Homo sapiens: one gene and its partner. The protein of the gene in region 1 purifies or fractionates together with the protein of each later gene. This does not show direct contact. Each region holds a gene or a part of one and is shown on either strand. Other genes may lie near its edges.

Region 1 (3,818 bases):
TTGAGGTTGTTAAGGACAAAACTATTAAACTGACATCAATAATACAGAATGGGCTGCTTAGTATCACTTTCCTTATCAGGTACTAGGATTTAATTTAGTTAGGAAACTCACTTAAAGGGAGGACTATAACTGCAGTTGAAAGTGTAATTTTTCCAAGATATAAAATTGTTTAAAGATTGAATATATTCCTGTTAAGCCCCAAAGGAAACATCCCTCATTTAAGAAAATGGGGTGGGAGAGCAAGAGAAGGTGAGGATTCACAGATCCTAGAATTGGAATAGTTGATTTTTTTTTGTAAAAGAGGCGGTGACAGCCGGGCATGGTGGCTCACGTCTGTAATCCCAGCACTTTAGGAGGCCGAGGTGGGTGGGTTACCTGAGGTCAGGAGTCCTAGACCAGCCTGACCAACATGGTGAAAACCCGTCTCTACTAAAAATAGAAAAAAAAAGCCGGGCGCGGTGGCTGACACCTGTAATCCCAGCACTTTGGTAGGCCGAGGCGGACGGATCATGAGGTCAGGAGTTTGAGATCAGCCTGGCCATTATGCTGAAACCCCGTCTCTACTAAAAATACAAAAATTAGCCAGGTGTGGTGGCATACCCCTGTAGTCCCAGCTACTTGGGAGGCTGAGGCAGGAGAATCGCTTGATCCTGGGAGATGGATGTTGCAGTGAGCTGCGATTGTACCACTGCAATCCAGCCTGCACGACAGAGTGAGACTCTGTCTCAAGAAGAAAAACAAAAAAAGGCAGTGACTAACAGGGATGTTACTTAGCAGGACAGGACTGTGGAAGGAGCTAAGACTGGGAGTTTCACAAAGACAAAGCTAGAAATGATACTTGGAGAGCTGTGTTCTTGTTTTAAAAAAATTGTAACAGGAGGCCAGGCACAGTGGCTCATGCCTGTAATCCCAGCACTTTGGGAGGCTGAGGCAGGAGGATTGCTTGAGGCCAGGAGTTCAAAACCAGCCTGGGCAACATGGCGAAACCCCGTATCTACAAAAAGTTAAAAATTAGCCAGGCATGGTGGTGCATGGCTGTAGTCCCAGCTACTTGGGAGGCTGAGACAGGAGGATCACTTGAGCCCTGTAGGTCCATGCTGCAGTAAACCAAGATTGTGCCACTGCATTCCAGCCTGGGCCACAGAGTGAGACCCTATCTTTAAAAAAAAAAAAAAAAAAAAAAAAAAAAAACAGGAATGCATGCAGATTAAACTATGTGTCTGTATACAGTATGCAAACTTTAGCAAGTGCCAGGCACTTAGGCAGTAGTCTATAGCTGAAAAATAAAACATTCAGAACCACTTTTTAAGGTTTTGTGTCCTTGTAACTTTAGGCATTATTATTACAATATAACTTAGCTGGGACATGAGAGTTAATAGATCCACATTTTAAAGTAGATTTTTTTTTTAATTTTCTAGAATGTGTCTGTGAAAACTACAAGCTGGCCGTAAACTGCTTTGTGAATAATAATCGTCAATGCCAGTGTACTTCAGTTGGTGCACAAAATACTGTCATTTGCTCAAAGCGTGAGTAAAATATCCTAATTACCTGTAAGCTTTATTTTGACTTAATACTTCTTTAATTGATGTGCCTTGAGTTGGAAAGAGTTTTATTGGCTTAAATCTGAATCATGTTACAAAGTAAGTGTGGGAACACATAAATTTCAAATAATCTTTGACCCTGGAACTTTAGAGTTAATTTTTTTTTTCCCGTAATCATGAAATCAGTTATTTTTCAGTTTGGCATTAAGGTTTCTTTTTCAGTGGCTGCCAAATGTTTGGTGATGAAGGCAGAAATGAATGGCTCAAAACTTGGGAGAAGAGCAAAACCTGAAGGGGCCCTCCAGAACAATGATGGGCTTTATGATCCTGACTGCGATGAGAGCGGGCTCTTTAAGGCCAAGCAGTGCAACGGCACCTCCATGTGCTGGTGTGTGAACACTGCTGGGGTCAGAAGAACAGACAAGGACACTGAAATAACCTGCTCTGAGCGAGTGAGAACCTAGTGAGTGGGGCTGCCTATACTACTTGTTTTCATGCTGTTCAGATTCATTTAATTAAATTTATTTTTGATTATGTAATATGATTTCATGGTTTAGAATTCAGAAGATATGAGTGTCCAGTGAAAAGCTTCCTTCTCATTCCAGTCCCCCTCGCTACCCATTGGACCTCCACAGAATTGATGTTATTGATTATTCTATAACCTTCCAGAGATAGTTGATGAATTTGTTATATATCTGTTTTATTATTTTTACATAAATGATAGCATACTAGGTATAATTTTTCTTTTATATCTTTACTTAACATTATTCAGTATTTCATTGTTGCATTAGTAGTAAATGTATGTAATTTAACCTATGTATTTGCTTATTGATTGTGTTTTAAAAGTGAGATATGCTTGTTTTAGGGATTGTTTAATGAAAAGGCACAGAAACCCACTCAAGCTAGCTTAAGCAAAAAAAGACTTCATTGGAAGGGACTAGAAACTGGAAAGGATGTCAGGACCAAAGTGGGCACTTTGTTTTTCTGTTCTGGTCTTCTGGAGCCTCGTTGTCAGTTTTCTCTTTGTGCCCTTTCTTTTGTTTTTTCTTTTTTCTTTTCTTTTCTTTTTTTTTCGAGATGGAATTTCCACTCTTGTTGCCCAGGTTGGAGTGCAGTGGCACAATCTCAGCTCACTGCAACCTCTGCCTCCCGGGTTCAAGCAACTCTCCTGCCTTAGCCTCCTGAGTAGCTGGGACTACAGCTATACCACACCTGACTAATTTTTGTATTTTAGTAGAGATGGGGTTTCACCATGTTGGCCAGGCTGGTCTCCAACTCCTGACCTCAGGCAATCCACCCACCTCCACCTCCCAAAGTGTTGGATTACAGTTGTGAGCCACCATGCCCGGGCCTTTCATGCCTTTTCATCTTTTTAGTTGAACAGGGCATGACACTGCCAGCTAAACTTTGACTTAATGTGACTTTATGTATTGTGTCCAGAGAACAGAGGGTCAATATTAGAAAAGGTGTTCCCTCCTGGGTGTGTCCTTTATGAAGGATGTGTAAGGGAAGAAATTATAGGAATAGCTACTGCATAAATTTTTTTTCTCTTAGTCCTTATAATTCGAGAATTTTAGGATTAGCTTATTAGGAAAATAGTATGGAAGACTGAGTTATAGTCAACTGACATTGTCTTTTTACTTTATAGCTGGATCATCATTGAACTAAAACACAAAGCAAGAGAAAAACCTTATGATAGTAAAAGTTTGCGGACGTAAGTGCAATTAAATGCATCATATTCTTGCACAGTTGGTGGCTCAAATCTTCCATCCTACACCATTAGAAAAAGCAAGTCTAAATGCTTTTTTATATTTCTGAAAAATAAAGTTACTTGAAATAGAGTTGCAAGAATAGCACAGAGATTCTGGGAATACACTTCACTCAGATTCACCAATTAACATTTTGGCACATTTGCTTTTTATATGTGTATGTGTGGATGAATATGTGTGTGTGCTTTACATCAGTGTATCTATGCATGTATAAATATTTTTCCCAGAAGCACATGAGAGCAAGTTGTAGACATCAGGCCCCTTTACCCCTAAGTACTTCAGTGTATGTTTTCCTAAGAACAAAAGGCATTCTTTTATATAAACCACTATACAACGATCAAATTTAGGAAAAATTTTTTTTTTTTTTTTTAGACGGAGTCTCGCTCTGTCACCCAGGCTGGCGTGCAGTGGCGTGATCTCAGCTCACTGCAACCTGCGCCTGCCGGTTTCAAGCGATTCTCCTGCCTCAGCCTTCCAAGTAGCTGGGACTACAGGTGCCTGCCACTAC
Region 2 (3,818 bases), on another chromosome or scaffold:
CAAGCTCAGCATGGGGGCCGGGATAGCTCACAGGAGTCCTGGGGTCAGAGGATTTTCCAGTTAGCCAAAAACGTCTGGGTTTCCGGAGGAGGGACATCAGTTAGGAGGCACTAGCCTCCTTTTTGGCATTTCTTTTGCTGTGGTGGTAGTTTTTGAAACCCAGTCAGGAGAGTTCATATTCTGGAGCATGAGAATCTCCGCAAACTACATCCTATAAAAGCAGGAAGTAGCTGGACACTGTCTTCCACTCTTCTTTGACTGAGCAACATTGGATGAGTTGTGAATCCATTGGTCAGTGGTGCAGGCTTGTGGTCCCCAGATACTTGAGGCTGAGGGATGGAGGATTGCTGAGGCTCAGGAGTTCAAGGCTGTAGTGTGCCATGATCACACCTGTGAATAGCCACTGCACTCCAGCCTGGGCAACATAGCAAGACTCCATCTCTTAAAAAACAACAACAACAACAAAGAATCAGTTGATTATGGGAAGTTCAGAAGTTGTGTTTTTCTTTACTTCATATCTTAAATAAAATCTAATAGGCTGAGTTTTTCCCTTCCAGGAATCCTAGAATGGCCCTTTTGGACTAAATTGGTGGTTGTGGCCATCGGCTTCACCGGAGGACTTCTTTTTATGTATGTTCAGTGTAAAGTGTATGTGCAATTGTGGAAGAGACTCAAGGCCTATAATAGAGTGATCTATGTTCAAAACTGTCCAGAAACAAGCAAAAAGAATATTTTTGAAAAATCTCCACTAACAGAGCCCAACTTTGAAAATAAACATGGATATGGAATCTGTCATTCCGACACAAACTCTTCTTGTTGCACAGAGCCTGAAGACACTGGAGCAGAAATCATTCACGTCTGATTGTGTGCGGGTTGTCATTTTCCTGGACATCCATGAAGAGCTGAAGGAAATTGTTTACTGCCAATTGTATACCTTTCTTATGTCCTTTAATAGCATAGACTGGACAGGTGACTATTTATAGTGGCTTCTCTTTTTCTAAACCCTCCTTAGTCTCCTAGAAAACCTTCCTGTGGGCCAGGCATGCCTGGGTCCTGCCTCTGCCTGGCAGCTCTGTGGGAAAGTGGAAGACCCCATGATGACATCATGGGGAGCCAGCAGAGTTCCTGCCCATGGTCTTGAGCTGAATGAGAGAATAAAATGCCAATCCCAAGGGAAGAGGAGGAGCAGGGGTGCCCAGGCCCTGATACCCAGCCGCCTCCAGCTTGCAGTGGTCCCCAGCCTGGAGCAGAGCATTGGGGAGTGTCTAGCCATGACGAGAAGATTCCCTCTGCATCACGGCGAACCCCAGGAGATGGTATTGAAACAGACCCCCAAACACAGACTCCTGCCTGCCCTCTGCCGATGCTGCCTCCTCCATGCTCTTGAGCAGGTGGAGCCATGGTGCTCTGTGGTGGCGCATGATTCACTGAGCAAACAGCACTTTACAGAAGAAAATCTTTATTTTGTAATATGTGTGTCCAGCGGGATTGACACTCAAAAAAAGTCTCACTTAGAAATCTTCCCTTCCTTACCTTTGTATCTCCTTTACATCATGAGAGATCAAAAATCCATTTTGCCTTACATATGCTAAGAAGCGTGGCATTCTTTCTGTTCATAAAACAGACTCATGACTTTTAAGACAGGACAAGCAGGCCAGAGGCTTTTTTTTTAATCACAGATCTCATGGGAATTAGTGGATGCTAAATGGCAATTAAAGCATGATTCCTATGCTTTTGAGCCTGTTTTATGACAAGGTGTTACTTTGTAGACCTGGCCCATACATTTCTTTTTTGTCAACACTGAAAAAGAACAGTTTCTGAGATCGAAATGGAAGGAAAGGAAGTGAGTAATGACAACAAAACTGAATATTTAAAAAATATTCCTTTATAGTTAAATCTCTCCAGTTGGTGTTGGCTTCACATTGAAAGAGCAGCCATGTGCCACCCTGGCCGGGGTGTGTGCACTGCATGCAGGTTCTCCCTTGCATGCAAGATGGGTGCTGGCCCACTGTGAGGCTTCTGCTCGGGGAAGTTCTGTGGAGTCACTACCAGGGCCAAGAGGCAGGTGGGCTGGCTCTGGGACGAGGGCCAGGTGTGAGCAAACTGCCAGGGTCCGCTGTGCCACTGCTCCCCGGCCACATGCCCGCCCAGCTGTCGCCTTAACCAGACTGAACAGACAGGATCCTTCAGGGCCCTTGGCCCCACTCTCAGTGCATTCTGTCATCAGGGATTACCACCTGTACCATTTTCATAAAACAAAACCAAAATCACTACCATCAAATGGCCTTGTCCCTCTAAAAAGTCTGCTTAAAATTCTGTTTTTAAAACCCAGTTTCCTAGTTTTCCAGGCAAATAGTTACCTCCGGGAAAGTTGCTGGGGGGGCCTGAAGCACAATGTAGCGCAGATGCTTCCTTTCCAGGCCATTCTCTCACCCAGCCTGCACGGAGGAGATGGGAGATGCTGGGGGTCCTGCCCTCAGTCTTTTTGGGCCTTAGGCGTTTCGTTCATCCTGCTAAGGGGATGAAGCAAACACGAGGTGATTCCTTTGCCTTTCAGAGTGGAAGCCCTGGAGTTTGTTTTGAAGGCCAGGAGGCTGAAGGATCTCTAAGCTACGGTGTGGGCTTAATAGCAGCAGGCTTTGTCCTCCTGTCTCCTCCAAGCCAGTGTCTGATTCCTTGGCAACACAGGTCTTAGTCTGTGGAGTGGCTCTGCTGTGGCCTTCCTCTGGCCGGGCAGGCACTGTCCAGCCATAGCCAGCTCCTGAGAATAGGTCAGCCTCTCCTTTCTGTCTCCCAGGGCACATCCAGCCCGTGCCTGTGTTCACTGTGCCCCGAAGTGCAATTACCCATACCCCTTCTCAGCCTGGGGACCCCAGGCAACCACAGACTGTCCACTCAGGGGAGCTGAATCCCAGGTCAGCCCTGCCAATGTCCCTTAGGAACTGCCCAGGCAAGGCCCCTGGTTTTGTATACTTGTTCCTGCCACCCAGCAGTAGATGAGTGTTTCAGGTGAAGACCAGGATAGATTTTCTAAGTGTGAATCCCCACTTCACATATGGAACCCCTTATGCTGAACTTGAAAAGCACCAAGACTTCCTGTAGACAAGAAAGTGCTTAGGTAGGGACAGCCCCTGGGCATCCCACCCAATGTAGCTGGCACCCCACTATGGCAAAGGTGCCTTGATAACTGAGCCCTGTATCCCTCCCATGCCCAGCCAGATTCTCATGGGAAGCCCTCTCCCTTCTTTTCTGCCTAACACCATCTCATCGTTTCTGGCCTCACTGTGGACAATCCACACACATTCTTCTTTCCTCTCCTGGCGGGGCACAGAGCCACCCCCTTGCCTTTTCTTTTCTTGAAGGTTCTAGTTCAGCTCCTGATTCATCAGACCCTTCTAGCCCCCTGCATCTAGCAGTGAAGCATGAAGCCTGGTGGGGATGTGGTACTCCCATCTGGTGTGGCCACCAGCTCTGCCAATGTTCCTGTAGCCTTGGAAAACTTGCTCTCTCGGTTCTTTTGGGTGCTGTGTACTCCCCAGCTTCCCCCCTTCCCCCCCCATTTTGCACCTGGGTTTAGTGAAAGGATGGCATTTGGTTGACCCATATAGAAACCCAGAATGAGGTCTCAGGGCCAGGAGGCCTGGTATTTGTAGGCCAGGGAAGGGGAAGAGGCAAGTGGTCTGGGGTATCACCAGCCAGCCCTCTCTGATTTGGCCTCTACTCCCCATAAGTCACAGTACCATAAGCAGGCTTCTGGCCTCAGCAATTTGGTCTTTGTGCCCAAGTTTATTGTGAGAATTTCCTGAAAACTCTATAAA

Evidence for each region.
Region 2: the proteins of EPCAM (region 1) and MARCHF8 purify together in Homo sapiens (affinity purification with western blotting; one study listed by BioGRID). This does not show direct contact.

The regions. Positions count from the first base shown.
Region 1 is NC_000002.12:47,372,045-47,375,862, forward strand, and holds part of EPCAM (epithelial cell adhesion molecule precursor), read left to right. Parts: intron 1-1,418; coding exon 1,419-1,526; intron 1,527-1,763; coding exon 1,764-2,004; intron 2,005-3,189; coding exon 3,190-3,255; intron 3,256-3,818.
Region 2 is NC_000010.11:45,455,283-45,459,100, reverse strand, and holds part of MARCHF8 (E3 ubiquitin-protein ligase MARCHF8), read left to right. Parts: intron 1-557; coding exon 558-862; 3' UTR 863-3,818. UniProt on the Homo sapiens protein: E3 ubiquitin-protein ligase that plays several important roles in innate immunity and adaptive immunity.